3 linked regions of the Homo sapiens genome follow. The protein of the gene in region 2 interacts with the protein of the main gene of each other region in a biochemical or structural test. Each region holds a gene or a part of one and is shown on either strand. Other genes may lie near its edges.

Region 1 (4,913 bases), on a different chromosome or scaffold from region 2:
AGACCAGCCTGGCCAACATGGCAAAGCCCCCATCTCTACTAAAAATACAAAAATTAGCCAGGCATGGTGGTGCATGCCTGTAATCCCAGCTGCTCGGGAGGCTGAGGCAGAATTTCTTGAACCCGGGAGGAGGTTGTAGTGAGCCAAGGCACGCCACTGTATTGCCACCTAGGTGACAGCAAGACTCCATCTCAAAAAAAAGTTTGGTCATTGAGGACTCAAGAATGATCAGTTAAGCGTTGTCAATGCCTGTGGATTTTCATTTGTATCTGGTGGAGAATCAGTTCCGTTAGTGTTTCTGAAGCCATCTTGCCTTGTAAACAAACAAGAGCCAGGCACAGGGTCTGTCTTAGCCCTTGTGGTCAGTTTGCAAGGCCCTTTCACCCTAACCACCCGGCACAAGCACCCCGGCTACGCAGCCTTAGCTGAGGCCCCACTTCATCCTCCAGGAGACGTGAGCACAGGTGGAAGGCTTGTCTGAGGCCATACAGGAGCCAGCCAAGGGGCCTTTTCTCTCCCCTGACCCACCCTGTCCTGTTTCTCTATAAATGCCAGTGATCTTGGCAGGGGGTAGGACAGGGTGAGCTCCCCCACCTCAGCCTTCCCTCTGGCATGGTGCTCCTGGGTAAAGTGGGTGCTTGTGAGGCTGCCACACACCCAGGGACTGAACACCTTTCCAGGTTTCCGGTAAGTGCAAAGGCTGTGTGTGGCCATGGCTCAAGTCCAAGCCAGCCGGGAGTCAGGGTCCCCACCTTAGCTTAGCAACTGTCAGTCAGGCATGGTCTCAGACACACTGAGGGGGTCAGCAACTGCTAGGAGCCCCAGGGAAGCTGTGGGCATTGAGGCTGGGAGTGCAAGTGGCCTCTGTGGAGGCAGCTGGCTCTTGGCCTCCTGTGTAAAAGGAGGGCCCTGAGGCCCATAAATCCCCCGAGAGAGAGATGGAAGGCGGACACACACACAGCCAGTGACAGCCCTGCTGAGCTTTTCTGCAGTCCCAAGTACTCTAGCATTAAATGCAGACATGAATAGGTCCCCGCCCCAGCACCTGGCCAGGGCCGACAAGGGAACACGTGTCCCTGGAGGAATGAAGAGCCAGGCACAGCCCCTCCCTCTGGGGCATCAGTGACAACAAACAGTCAAAGTGCATTTTATTGCCAACAGAACACTTCAGGAGGAAATGCTAACACAAAGCCAAGGCGCTGGTGCTGGCTCATTTTTGCTCCTCCTGACCTTGGCCAGTATTTGGTAGCCTTTCCAGAGCACAGGGTGAAAGGCTAAAGGGCTAGGGCTGGGGTGGGGGGAGCAGGAGGGCATGGCAGCTGCTGGCTCTGTCCTCCCAGCCTGGTCCCACCCCTCCTGCCGCTCTCCTTGGGCTCAAGGGACACACATTCGTTCAAATCTGACGGGCAAAGCCAGGGCCTAGCCCACTCTAGCCGCAGGGTCCCCTCCCTGAGGGCCCTGGTCCAGCACCTGGGTTTCTGGGCTTTTTCTGGCTGAGCTGGAGGGCCTAGGGCCAAGCCCACTCTCCGGAGGGCTGGAAACCACCCCTTCAGGTGGGCAGTGGGGCGCGGCCAGAACGGGGGAATGGAAAACAGGAAATGGGGGTGGCTGCAGATTCCAGCTGGAAATGGAAACTCACTCCAGGAGTGAAGGCAGCGCCCGGGCCGCTATGTCTCACCTCACTCCCCAGAAAGCGGCCCCTTCCAGCATCTGACCCCTCCTGGGGGGCTCCCATCACGGAGGCCCGAGGGCCAGGCCTGAGGAGTAATGGGCGACATTCCTCTAGCCCACACAGAGCCTGGTCTGCGGAGACCACGCAGCTGGAGGGCCTGGTAGAATCGGTGCCCCAGAAGGCCACAGACAGGATGCCTGACCCTCGTCCCATCAGCCGGCACGGGCTGTGTGCCTTCCATCCATCCACGACCTTCAGGAGTCCAGAAGGCAGGGAGCCCCACGCTGGCCCGGTTTCCCAGTGTGCTGACTACAAACGTAGGAAGAAGAGCTCTAGCTCGGAATATTAAAAACACTATTTTCTGAAGAGGAATATTAAAAACACTATTTTCTGAAGAGTTGAGGCTCAGGCCTACCGGGTCCTGGCTGCACCCCAAAGTTCCTTCTGCAGATAAATAAGAGACTCACATCCAGAAGCACCACCCACATGGCCCAGGACCCTGCAGGCTCAGTAAGGGCCAGGGGCCTTGAGGACATTGATCCAGACGGTGGGGCGGGAGGCTTGGGCACCAGGTGGAGGGGCAAGGCCTCTCGGTCCTGTCAGGGCAGTTGCAGAGGCCCAGGCCTGTCACCAGCCACCCTGCTGGACCCCTGGGGGGCCTAGTAGTTCACGAGTTGAGCTGGGTAGATGCCATCCTTTTTGTCAAGCTGCAGGGGTTAAAGGTGGGGGGTCAGTGGTCACAGCCAGGCACCTGGGGCCCCACCTCTCCCTTGAGCAAGCTCCTCCCTGCATGTTGTCAGTGGTCCCTGACTTCCCCAGGGACGTGCACCATGTGCCCCTCTAGGGCTGGGGACAGCACCCCCGTCCAGGAACTCCCCCATCCCAGTGCAGACGGCACCTGGTGGTCCTGTCTGGGGGCCACGCTGGGCTTCTGGGCCAGGGGTGGTTTCTTGGTGGTTACACTTCGGGGGGCAGTGCTGGGCCGGATGGCCACCTCCTCTCCAGGGCTGCCTGATGCCCCAGCCAGCACGTAGTGTTGCTTCCGCAACTCCCCCAGCCGCATGCGTTCAGCCTCCAGCGTCTTCTCCAGCTCCAGGACACGCACCTGTAGCCACACGGCCTGCTCAGCCCAGCCCAGCCTCCCCAGGGAGCTCTCTCCTGGGTCCAGGCTTCGCCCGAGGGATGAGCTCAGAGGTCACGGGGCAGCCATGGGCGCCTACCTGGGTCTCCATCTCCTGCTTCTTCAGCTTGATGAGGGACAGGCCGGAGAAATCCATGGTGTCTGTGGCCGGAGGACAAGGGGGTGAACATCTGGGCACCCACCCCCATTCAGCCTCGGGAGCCAGCAGCCCCCGTTGGCATCTGGCACTCACCTCTGTCCTCAATCTGCTCCTGGCCTGACTTGGTGGAGGCCACCACATTGGCAGCCCTCTCATTGACTGTGCGAGAACATTCCTGCAGGCGGCTCAGGTGGGGGCTGTGCTTGTTGGCCTTCACCTGAGGGGCGAGAGGTCAGGGTGGGCCCAGGTCTCCCAGCTCAGGGCAGCAGCAGGCCTGGGCTTGGCAGCCACAGCCCAGGCCAAGCTGGGCCCAGAGCCCAGTGTGCTGCTGTCGGCGTGCAAGCTCACCTTGGAGGCCGCCACCAGCTGGGCCGTGCTGGCTGCGATCTCGTGGGAGCAGACGATGAGCTCCTCATACTTGCCCGTGTGAAGCACCACCTTGTCAGCTGCCTCCCTGCGGGTCAAGGGCCAGTCAGGGCCAGGGTCTCTGACCCCACGGACGGCTGGCACCACTCCACACCCCCTCTACTCCCTGCACCCTGTTGAACCCCAAACTGCTCCAACTGGCAGGAAGCAGCCCCCTGCCCCCCCCCACCCAGGGCAACCTACACCAGCTGTGTGGCTCCCCAGCCCACAGCCTTGGAGGCCGAGATGAGGCCTTCGGTCCAGCGCGAGTTCTTGGCGTAAAATTCCTGCTGCGTGGCTGCCCCCTAGTGGCGACGGGAGAACAGGGCAGGACATGCCAGTCAAGGACACCAAAGGTGGAAAGTGGCCCTCAAGGGCCCTCTCCCCCTCACTCTGGCCATAGGGCGCATCCCTGAGGCCTCCCTGTGGTAGGGGGTGGAGGGTCTCATGCCCAGGGTGGCCTAGGCTGGGGGTCAGGCTCCTTGTGGACTGTGCCCTGCTGCCGCCGGCCCCTCACCCTGCCGCTCTCCACGATCTCCTTCTGCAGGCTAGTGGATGTCGTCACCAGGAGCCGGATAGCCTGCCGAGACCAAGACAGCAATGACTGGTGGCCCTCCAGGTGCAGACCCCCCCGGGTCACAGCCCCTCACCTTCATCAGGTCTGTGCAGGAGTTGAGGATCCTGGGGGAGAGAAGGAGAGACTTAGCTGCCGCTCTGCAGAGCAGCCCACACGACGCCATGGCGGGCCTGGCCACATCAGGGCTCAGCAGGTGGGGAGGGAGTGTCTGCTCTGAGCCAGGCCTTCCTTTCCCGTGAGCAGAACAGTTGGGGGCAGAACCTTAGGGGCCACGGGGAGCCCACCTCGGCTGGGCCTGGGGGGACAGAAGGGGGGCTCACCTCTCGTTCACCTCCAGCTTCACCCCCGAGCTGGCGTGGCGTGCCTGGTTCATCATGTCCTGCACCCAAGAACAGAGCCGTGAGCTGGCTGGGAGGAGGGGACCGTGGTCCTGGGAAAGCCAGGGCTGCCTCCTGCCCTCTCAGCTCTGACCTCACAGGCCCCTGGAAAACGCCATCTGTCCTCTGTCTGGAGGCTGAGAGCAGGAGTGGGTGCAGCCTGTACCCAGCCCAGTTGGGGCCTCCGGCCCCCAAAGCTCCACAGGAATGAGGGGAGTCCCCAGATCCCGTGCTCACCTCAATCCTCCGCACAGCATCTTCAATGGCTGCGGATGTGGCCGCCATCTCCTTGTCGACCACGGCCCCCAGCTCCTCCTGCCGCACATCTAGGCTCTTGGGTTTCAGTTCCTGGTGAGGATGGGAGTCAGACAGGGGTAGCCTCCGTCCCCCCCCGTCCCACGGGCAGCCTGGGAAAGAGGTTGGGGACCACAGGGATCGAGGAGGGTGCATGGTCCCCACCCTGTGTCCTGAGGCTGCAGGCTCCACGCACAAACACCTGTTCAGCCAACCCAGAGGTGGGTGCAGAGGTCAGAGGCAGGCCCAAGCCTCCCAAACCCACACTCAGCTGTGCCTCACCTGGCCCAGCTGAAGGATGCCCTGCA
Region 2 (5,547 bases):
AGAATTTCCTTTTCATAGCCAGCCAGCCAGAGCAGTGACTGACTCCTGCAGCTGGATGAGTTTGCTCATCAAGAACAACCCCAGAACATTTCCCCTATTACAGGTAGCACTTGTGCTTGTCAGCTCTTTCAAGGCTTGAGAAGGTTTGGGGAACCCACAGTTCTCAGAGATGGCAAACATTTTTTTCTGTGCCCACTTTGAGGCTGTTTATGGAATGAAGTTCTGCATTGTATTCGTGCCTCCAGAGCTTGTCCTAGGTCAGGTATTCCTCTTCCCTCCCCTCTCCTAAGCCTCCCTGAGCCCCTTCCTGCCTTGGCTGAGGATTGCTACTTTCAAGTGAAGGACAAATAAGGGGAGGGCCACCTGTGTGTGTGTCTGATTTTCTGTTTGTTCTGGGCCTGCAACCTTGACAGGGGATGTGCTTGTCACTGAGGAGCTCTTTGGTCTTGGGCTAGCTGCAAAGGAGCAAGAGCCTGACATTCAAACTTTTGTTGTCTTAGTGATGATTTGACAGGAGTCATGAAACCTCTACTCTTCTTGTGGAGGGAAACCCAAGTTGAAATCGATCAGGTTTAGTCCTTTGTGTAAACTAAAAGGGTTATGGGTTTATAAGCCAGCCTGCCTTGCCTTTTCCTCCCACTCATTCTGCCCACAAACAACTCTGTTTTCCTGCTGAGTCACTTTAAGTTATAATCAGCCTGCTCTTTTTGCTTTCTTTAAATTTCCACAAAACACCTCCTGTGTATAAAACAAAATGGGAAAGAAGGAAGGGCATGTGTGAGCTTAAAAATTAACTTAAAATTACTAGAATTTGCCTTCAAATAAGTATGTGAGGTTAGCTTAATGACCAGGCATGATTATCCTTGAAAAATGTCTTTCCCCTTGCCCACCCCAAATCGACTTGACAAAGGACAGGGTAAGACTCCATGAGGGAGGTTCCATGTCCAGCCACAGTGGAGAAGAGTGGGCTGGCAGAGCCCAGGGAGTCAGTCCAGGACAACAGAGTCAAAGCCAGCCTGGCCCCTGCTGTCAAAATTTATCCACCCAGTCTGCCCCCTCCTTCCTGTCTGAGAGCCCTGCCATGTTGAGAGTTAAGAAGGGATGAAGTTCTGGATTCTGGGCTGCACCTTATCAAAGCCAATTGAGTCTGGTGTAAAAATATTCAGAAACTGTACCCGCTTCTTGAGTAGAGAGAGAGCCATATTCAGGAACAACAGAAGCCAGGGCCAGGATCCTAGTCCAGTGTTCTTCCCACCAGACCACTCACCTCCAGCCGTTTTTTCCTGTAAGGTTGAGATTTTAAAATGACGATATGTGTTCCCAGGATTCTGGAAGTGTATCCCACCCAGACAGTGTGGGGAAGCAGTAGTTAGATAATCCAAGATAAAACTGGCTTTGGGTCCTAGCGCATCTGGTGTCTGGCAGCATTCCTGCCCAGTGCATTAACTGAAACAGGAAGGTGGCGTGGCTTTCTGGGCACATACAGCAGGGAAGAAGCATGACTATACAGTAGAAAGAGCCCTGGACTTAGGGCCAGGCTGCCTTGGTTGTGAGTCCTGAATGCTGCCACTGTGGTGTAGCTGAGCAAGTTGTTCATCTCTAAGCCTCAGTTACCTCATCTGTACAGTGGGGGTGAGAACAGTCAGGGTCATAGGTTGTTAACAGTTAAGGATTGAATCAACATAATGTATGTGAAAGGGCTTAGTCCATGATTGGGTGCTTAATAAATGCCCGTGTTGCTGGGGTGAGCCAAAGGGATGAAGTTGGCAGTGCTTGCTCTGTCGTGGAGCAGTCCCCACGTGGGAAGGCCAGCGGGAAACCAGGCCTGCTGAAGTCTCCAGCGCTGGAAGCCTCACGGGGGTTAGGAAGGAGCCTTGGGAGCAGCTCCTCAGAGCACAGTTGTACCTCAATTGTGGATTTTAGATGTTTCTGCTTCTCAATGTTCTCTCTTTTTTCCTGCCTGCTTGCCTGCCTTTTGGACCTCTTGCTGTCTAGGGTGGCAGATGAAGCTTTCTACAAACAACCCTTCGCTGACGTGATTGGTTATGTGTATGTTGCAAAACTAATTCCTTTTTCTACATCTGATTCTTTCTACTTTTGTTTAGAGTTAATGCTCCTTTTATGTCACAAGTTGCTTTGCTTTTTAAATTATTTCAAATTGGCACTTTGGGGGCTGCCTAAGAATTGATAAGCGGGGTATGATCTGTTGATGAATCTTCCAGATTTGTGACTCCCTGCATCCTCTGATGGCCATTTTTCATATTTGGGGTTTTGGAGGGAAGAAAGCTAACTCGCTTTCAAAATGTGTCATTTGCGATCTTATCTGGGAACGGTTTGAGGCTCGGGGGAACTCTGCTCTCTTGCTCTTGGCTGCCATCACTGCTGCCATGCCCTGTTGCCTGCCTGCCTCAGGTGGGAAGGAGGTTTCCCCACCTGGGAGCAGGTGGCAGTCCCAGGAGGTTAGGAGCCAGTGAGCAGCAGCACCTTGCATTGCCAAAATCAGAGCTGTGGGGCAGCATTTTCCATACTTGGTTCATTCAAACAATGTGGGGTCGTTTGCCTCTCCCTCAGGCAGAAGAGTCCAGAGCAGAGGGGGTTGTCTCCAGTGGGTGTCTATAATTGTTCCTCTGTGGTCTTGCATGTCAGAAATTGCTATTTAGTGGTCAGCTTCTGATGTCCTGTCTCCTAGCACAGGGAAGCCCCCAGCTTTGAGATCAGGATAGTCAAAGTGTCTTGATACGGGCCACTTGGGCTTCTCCCCCTGACCCCCCCAAAAGAAACCTGCATCTTCTCTGGAGAAGGTGTTTTTCTTATTCTTTTTTTTTTCTTTTTTTCTTTTTTCTTTTTTTTAAGGATTTCTTTTATCAAAGCAGTATTGCTGAAGAGTTGGAAACAGTTCTCATTGTCTCCTCCTTAAAAATTAGGGCTGGCTTTACATGAGAAGTAAGGGTGGAATGGAAGAGGAGAGGAACCTGTGGAAGGTGGGCGATGAGCTCAGGTCTGTAGAGCCTCTCAGGGCCTATGACCTTGAGATGTTCATCCCCTTAGAAGATAGAACTGGGTTTCCTGGGCCCCCAGATGCATTTGCAGTGAGACTTGTGAAATGCTGGACTTACAGGTGGTGTTTGATTTGATTTCTGCACATTCTCTCTGGAGTAGAAATGGAGACTGGAAAGGTCGAGTCTGGTTTTGCTGGGCAGCTGGGTGGCCAGCAAAGCCAGCTGCACGTCCCCAAGCACAGATAGAGTGGCAAGGGCATGTCCAGCTTACTGACCATCTGCATTGAGCTCATTCTCATTTTCTATATCTGACTTAAAGTTTCTCTCGTTTCTTTTCTTCTCTTCACCTTTAAGCACAAACATAAACCATCCTTGCTACAGCCTAGAACAGTTAAGTAAACCTTTCTCACTGCCCCTAACTGTGTGTGCCATGAAGTCGCAGTGTTGTAGTGGCTCTGGGCTTCAGCGGTGTTTGCCACGGCCATCCCTGTGATAGTGCCACCCCTCCGTCCCCACAGACCAGTCATCTCCATTGCTTTTGCTTTGCCCGTGATGCTTGTTGGAGTAGATGAATATAGTGTGTCTTAGCGCTGTCCTTTCCGGCTGTAGCTCCCACCAGTTAATTCCGAACTGGGGGTGGGCTGACCTTGATGTGAAAGAATGTTGGAGCAGCATCCTGCCAAAAAGCAACTCACGTTGGCTCTCCTGCCAGTGTGCCCTGAGTGGCCCCAAGGCACCTGGCTGGAGGGAAAATGGCAAACTTTTGGCTGAACTGGAGAATGTCCTAACAAACCCCCTTCCAGAATGGCTTTAGTCTCTAGTGCTTGCTAGCATGGGAGCTTTGTCTTGAATTCCTTTTGATCTGCCCCGTTTCTCTCCAGCCTTAGGAATAAATCTAGAGGCTATTGTGCAATGATCTGTGGGCTTTTTAGAAGTCTCTAAATTTCCTTGAAATTCAGTACAGCCCAGCATAAACTACTCAAGTTCTTGATCAGCCTGCTGCTTTGTTCTTATTAATAAAAGCAGTGTGTAGCTGGCTAAGGACTTGTTTTATTAATGCTCCACAGGAGCAGAGACAGACAGAGAGACATAGTGAGCCTTGAACCAAACACCTGTATTCCAACATTTTACACAGCGGTCTGGGCACCCTGTGCCTAGGAGAGCCAGCTACGTGTCTACCTGAGTCTGACCTGGGCCAGGGGCTGTTATCTTGGGAAAGCCAGAATGTCATTAAGAAAGGGACAAATAGGCAGTTGCTTGTGTAGCAAGGCAGCCACCAGGTTGCTCAAAGGGGGTTCTGCATAAACCAACATATTTTGTTGTTGCTTCCAGGGCAGCAGAAGAAGCCTTTGTAAATGACATTGACGAGTCGTCCCCAGGCACTGAGTGGGAACGGGTGGCCCGGCTGTGTGACTTTAACCCCAAGTCTAGCAAGCAGGCCAAAGATGTCTCCCGCATGCGCTCAGTCCTCATCTCCCTCAAGCAGGCCCCGCTGGTGCACTGAAGAGCCACCCTGTGGAAACACTACATCTGCAATATCTTAATCCTACTCAGTGAAGCTCTTCACAGTCATTGGATTAATTATGTTGAGTTCTTTTGGACCAAACCTTTTTGTCTTTAGAGTTGTTCATTGTTTGTGATTGCATGTTTCCTTCCTTCAACTGTGTTCTCCCTGGCATTCAGAGAGGAGGGAGAGGAGGAAGAGGAAGGGGAGGGAAGCTTCCCAAGAGTAGCCTCAACCTGTGCTTCTGTGCATTATTCTGAGAATAAATTTCTGTTTCAAACTGTATTATGTGAAGCTTCTTTATTGACCTCAAGATGTGTTGTAGTTTGGAGTGAGGTTGGAAGGAATTTCCAGGAGGAATTTCCTTGAAATTTCTAGGGCTGAGGAGGCACAGCCACTGGGCACACAGCCCTGCCTTGAACTAAGATAGCACCGGGATCTAGAGTGGGATCCTGTGGACATTTTCATTTGAGAAGGGAGTTTAGTGGCTGAAGGTTAACCCCCTCATTATCTACCTAAGACACAGCTGTGAATCCTCTCACCAACCTAGTCGTTTTCTCCCAGATGGGCTCTTGCTTGCCAGTGTCCCTCAGTTTAGGGTCTTGGATAGTATATTTCGGCAGGAGTCTGTGGGGCACGTAGACTCTAGTAAGACCTTGACTCCTTTGGATCCGGCCAGTAAGCCTGAGTCAGGACGGCATTCATGTGTGGCTAGCCCCATTACTGTTGAGTCCTGTAGCACATGTTGGGTTCTGTGCCATCCCAAGCACTTGGTTCATATTTCTCTTGTAAAATCCTTCATCTAGACCTGTGCTGTCCAGTGCAGTATTCACCAGGCCCATGTGGCTATTTAAATGAATTTAAAATACATTTCTAGTCCTAGTCACAATTCATGTGCTCAGTAGCCATATGTGGTTAGGTGGCACTCGGATAGCACAGGTTATAGAACATGTCCATGGTCGCAGAAAGCTGCACTGGACCATGCTGATCTACCACAGGTGTTTCCAGGAGCCCGTGCTTTGTTCAGACACCAGTAAGTTCATT
Region 3 (4,233 bases), on a different chromosome or scaffold from region 2:
GTAACCCCAGCTACTCAGGAGGCTGAGATGGGAGGATCACTTGAGCCCAAGAGGTGGAGGCTGCAGCAAGCTGTGATTGTGCCACTGCACTCCAGCCTGGGCAACAGAGCATACCCTGTCTCAAAAAAAGAAAAAGAACCTAGCACCTCCCTCCATCCTTCTCCTGCTTCCTCTCTGGCCCTGTGGTCTCTGCACACCAGGCCTGCTTCCCCATCCAGCATACGTGGACACAGCCTGAGGCCCCACCAAAAGCAGATGCTGATGCTGTGCTTCTTGTACAGCCTCCAGAACTGTGAGCCAAATAAACCTCCTTTTTTTTACAGCAACACTAAAGGGATTAGGGCATCAGCCACTGGGCAATCTCAGTAAAGGGTGCATGGGAGTTCTTTACATGATCACAGTTGTTCTCCAAATTTGAAATTATCTCGAAATGTTAAAAAAAAAAATACAGACTGGGCGTGGTGGCTCACGCCTGTAATCCCAGTACTTTGGGAGGCTGACGTGGATGGATCATGAAGTCAGGAGATTGAGACCATCCTGGCTATCATGGTGAAACCCCATCTCTACTAAAAATACAAAAACTTAGCTGGGCGCGATGGCGGGCGCCTGTAGTCCCAGCTACTCAGGAGGCTGAGGCAGGAGAATGGTGTGAACTCGGGAGGCGGAGCTTGCAGTGAGCCGAGACCGTGCCACTGCACTCCAGCCTGGGTGACAGAGCGAGACTCCATCTCAAAAAAATAATAATAATAAGGCCGGGCGCGGTGGCTCACATCTGTAATCCCAGCACTTTGGGAGGCCGACGCGGGCGGATCACGAGATCAGGAGATTGAGATCATCCTTGCTAACGCAGTGAAACCCCGTCTCTACTAAAAATACAAAAAATTAGCTGGGCGTAGTGGCGGGCGCCTGTAGTCCCAGATACTCAGGAAGCTGAGGCAGGAGAATGGTGGGAACCCGGGAGGCGGAGCTTGCAGTGACCTGAGACCGCGCCACTGCGCTCCAGCCCGGGCGACAGAGCTAGACTCCCTCTCAAAATAATAATAATAATAATAATAATAATAATAATAATAATAATAATAAAATACAGGGGAAAGCTGTATTTTAATTCAAACATCGGCCATGCAGAGACTCCCTGCCCCCATATATCCCAGCTGACGCCCCAGGCCCCGGGCCCCCCTCCCTTGCAGGCCATCAGGGCCAATTCAGTTCTGCGTGTGCTTGTTCATCTGGCCAATGCCCTTAGAAGCCCAGCAGTGAAGGGTGTGGTGTGCATGGCCCTGCCTTCCCTGACCCCACCTGGCTGGCTTCCAGCTCACCATGGCTTCCCTGGCAGGCCCAGTTCACAGGCTTCCTGGGCACTGCCGCTGTTCCAAAGCAGGCCAGTCCCACTGAGCTGGGAAGCTGCCTAGACCCGCACCTAGCCAGCAAGCCTGGGAGCCAATGGTGGGGGGCTTCCATCCACCAATGGTCGGGGGCTGGGGTGGGCGGGGCTGCAGAGCCGCTGCTGGCTGGGGTGGGCGGGGCTGCAGTGCTGCAATTGGCTGGGGTGGGCGGGGCTGCAGTGCTGCAATTGGCTGGGGTGGGCGGGGCTGCAGAGCTGCTGCTGGCTGGGGTGGGCGGGGCTGCAGAGCTGCTGCTGGCTGGGGTGGGCGGGGCTGCAGAGCTGCTGCTGGCTGGGGTGGTGCAGGTGGTGGGTGAGATCTGCCGGAAGTCCATTCCCTGTAGTGTTCAGTGCCGGGAGTTGGCTGGGGCTGGGGTGGGGATGCTGGGGCTGGGGTGGGGATGCTGGGGCTGGGGTGGGGATGCTGGGGGAGACTCATGGCAGCTCCAGGCTCCCCTGGCGTTTCAGCCTCACCATCTTTCATCTGGCTCCAGGGACACGGGAGACCCCAGCCCCCAGGAACCAGAGCTCACCCCTCATCAGGCCCCACTCCCCACTCAGACGCCCCCATTCACTCCTTTCTTCACTTGGTCATTTATGCCTGTGGGCCACACATCTAGGAGGCAGGAGCTGCTCATGGGTGCCGCCCAGAACCAGGGGTCCCCCGGGAGGCAGACACTCCTGTCAGAGGGGGAACGCCCGGGGCCCAGGCCCAGCACCAGGTAGATGGGGGCGGGGGGTCGGGGAACCAGCAGGACAAGGGGCTGGGCAGCGGATAGGGATGGACCCGAGGCTCCCCTGGGTGGGCCGGAGCCCCGCCATTAAGGCACATCCCGGTGGGGCTTGGACAAGGCCCGGACCACGCAGCGCGAGGATGCGCGTGCTCCGCCTGGGCGCACCACGGCTTCCTGGGAGCTGCCCCCCACGGGGTCTCTCCTGGGTCCTTCGGGGGTCCCTGGGGGGAGCACAATGCCGGCCTCACTCACAACTGGCGGGGTGGGGGGCGGGAGAAAGGCCAGCCCGGCAGAGGACGCGCAGGAGAGATGGAAGCCTCCGGTGGACGTGAAATCTTTACTTAGAGAAAAGCGACAGAGTCAGAGACCCACGGGGGCGGGGCTGCAGCGAGGGCGCCTGGGGACACGAACACGGCGGAGAGCATCGGGAGACGCGCTGGTCACAGGAGCTGGCGGAGGACGCTGCGGAGACAGAGCCCGAGGGTTGAGAGCGGCGACGCGGCCAGGGGCTCCCCGCGGACCCCGCGTCACCCGGCGGGCTCGGATTCGCAACCCCCAACCCCGAGGTTCTGGCGGGCCGGGTCGGAGGGAAGAGGAAGGGAAGGGTGGCGGGGGTCTTTGGCTCAGAAGCGGTGGCGGGAGGCCAGGAAGAGACCTGGGCAGAGCCGGCCGGAGCCCCGCGGCGCGCACCTACCCCGGGCCGGGCTGCGGGGCTGGAGACGTCACTGCGCGGGCGGGGGCGCCGCGCTCCCGGCCGCCTTCCGCGCCGCCTCCTTCTCCGCCTTGGCCGACGGCTTCCCGGGGGGTTCGGTGGCCGCCGCCGCCGCCCCAGCCTGGGTGGGCCCCTTGCGCTCCTCCTTGGCTGCGCGGTAGCCGTCCCCCCAGGCCGCCGGCGTCTCCGTGCCGTGCTTGCGGCTCAGCGGGTAGGCCCCGATGGCCGCCAGGATGCTGCGGTGGCGCTCGGGGTCCATCTCCGTGTAGTACATCTCCAGGGTCAGCGGCGTGCAGATCTTGTGCTGCGGGAGGGGCCGGGTCAGGGTCGGTGGGGCTGAGCCCTCCTGTGCGCCCCGGGCCCAGGCCCTCCCGCTTCTGCGGTTGGGGACACTGCGGACAGTTTGTAATGGAGCCATGGCTTCAGGACACCGAAGATCAGCCTCCAGTTCAGAACTCAGGGCCCTGGAGGGGCATGGAGCAGGAGGTCGCGCGTTGTAAGGGGAGGGGCCACCCAGGGAGAGGGGCGCAGACACCAGTGGACCTGCCCAGCGCAGCAAGGACTCTGCGGAGCGCGCTCCAGAGCATAAACCATGGAGTTAAGGAGAAAAGGAGCAGATTTTACTTCTGATAAATAAAAGGCTTTCTAAAAACACACTAAAAGCTATAACCATTATTGACAAAGAGATTTAAAAAAAAAAAGGATGGAAGAAAATATCTGCCAAATAGGTGGGGAGCATTAATATCATGTTATATAAAAATAAAACCTCACACAAGTCACTCAGGAGGACAGATGACCCCTAGAGAGGTGGCTGCAGGGTGACCTTTTCTGCCTCATCTTTTTACTTATTTTTTAAATTACAAGAAGAGAAACCCATCACTAACTCATCTTTTCTTTTAAATTTTCAAAAGATACGATCTCATGTTCTAGAGAAGTAACAGGAACATGGCTTTGGAGACCACGTTCCCCCAGCAGCAGGAGACACCCCTGCCACCCCCTGCCTGGAGGCTACGGGAGGAGGGGCGGCTCTACACCCCCCACCAGAGCCCTGGCCCCCTTACCCGCAGCAGGAAGCCGTCGGGGCAGGTGAACTGGTCGTACCAGATGGCCTTGTACATGATCAGCACGCAGCCCAGTAGCGCCATGGCGAAGGCGATCATCCGTGCGGTGGGCAGCTGGCAGGAGGGCAGAGAGGGGCTCAGCCACGCCAGGCAGGGGCGGTCTTTGTGGGGAGCTCCTCAGGGGCTGGGCTGGCACAGGACCATCCCCGCCCTCCAGTCTTGATGCCCCACCCCCGCCCTGGGCAGCCAGTGGCTTTTCCAACTTTTCCGAGGGTCAAGTGTGCAGGCGTCACCCCTCGGGGCCAGGCCTTGCTGGTGGCCCCTCCACTGGGGTTCTGGAAACAT

What was found.
Region 1: the proteins of CLTA (region 2) and HIP1R form a complex in vitro, tested with the Homo sapiens proteins (one study listed by BioGRID).
Region 3: the proteins of CLTA (region 2) and CALY form a complex in vitro, tested with the Homo sapiens proteins (one study listed by IntAct).

What each region holds. Positions count from the first base shown.
Region 1 is NC_000012.12:122,859,172-122,864,084, reverse strand, and holds the end of HIP1R (huntingtin-interacting protein 1-related protein), read right to left. Parts: coding exon 4,888-4,913; intron 4,660-4,887; coding exon 4,549-4,659; intron 4,314-4,548; coding exon 4,255-4,313; intron 4,039-4,254; coding exon 4,008-4,038; intron 3,938-4,007; coding exon 3,875-3,937; intron 3,663-3,874; coding exon 3,562-3,662; intron 3,407-3,561; coding exon 3,301-3,406; intron 3,170-3,300; coding exon 3,046-3,169; intron 2,955-3,045; coding exon 2,893-2,954; intron 2,778-2,892; coding exon 2,571-2,777; intron 2,380-2,570; coding exon 2,332-2,379; 3' UTR 1,124-2,331; downstream 1-1,123. UniProt on the Homo sapiens protein: Component of clathrin-coated pits and vesicles, that may link the endocytic machinery to the actin cytoskeleton. Binds 3-phosphoinositides (via ENTH domain).
Region 2 is NC_000009.12:36,207,272-36,212,818, forward strand, and holds the end of CLTA (clathrin light chain A), read left to right. Parts: exon of another isoform or gene 1-1,283; intron 1,284-1,995; coding exon of another isoform or gene 1,996-2,049; intron 2,050-3,353; coding exon of another isoform or gene 3,354-3,389; intron 3,390-4,331; coding exon 4,332-4,503; 3' UTR 4,504-4,788; downstream 4,789-5,547. UniProt on the Homo sapiens protein: Clathrin is the major protein of the polyhedral coat of coated pits and vesicles.
Region 3 is NC_000010.11:133,322,990-133,327,222, forward strand, and holds the end of CALY (neuron-specific vesicular protein calcyon), read right to left. Parts: intron 4,003-4,233; coding exon 3,889-4,002; intron 3,292-3,888; exon of another isoform or gene 3,246-3,291; coding exon of another isoform or gene 3,132-3,245; coding exon 2,838-3,131; 3' UTR 2,810-2,837; intron 2,578-2,809; 3' UTR 1,083-2,577; downstream 1-1,082. UniProt on the Homo sapiens protein: Interacts with clathrin light chain A and stimulates clathrin self-assembly and clathrin-mediated endocytosis.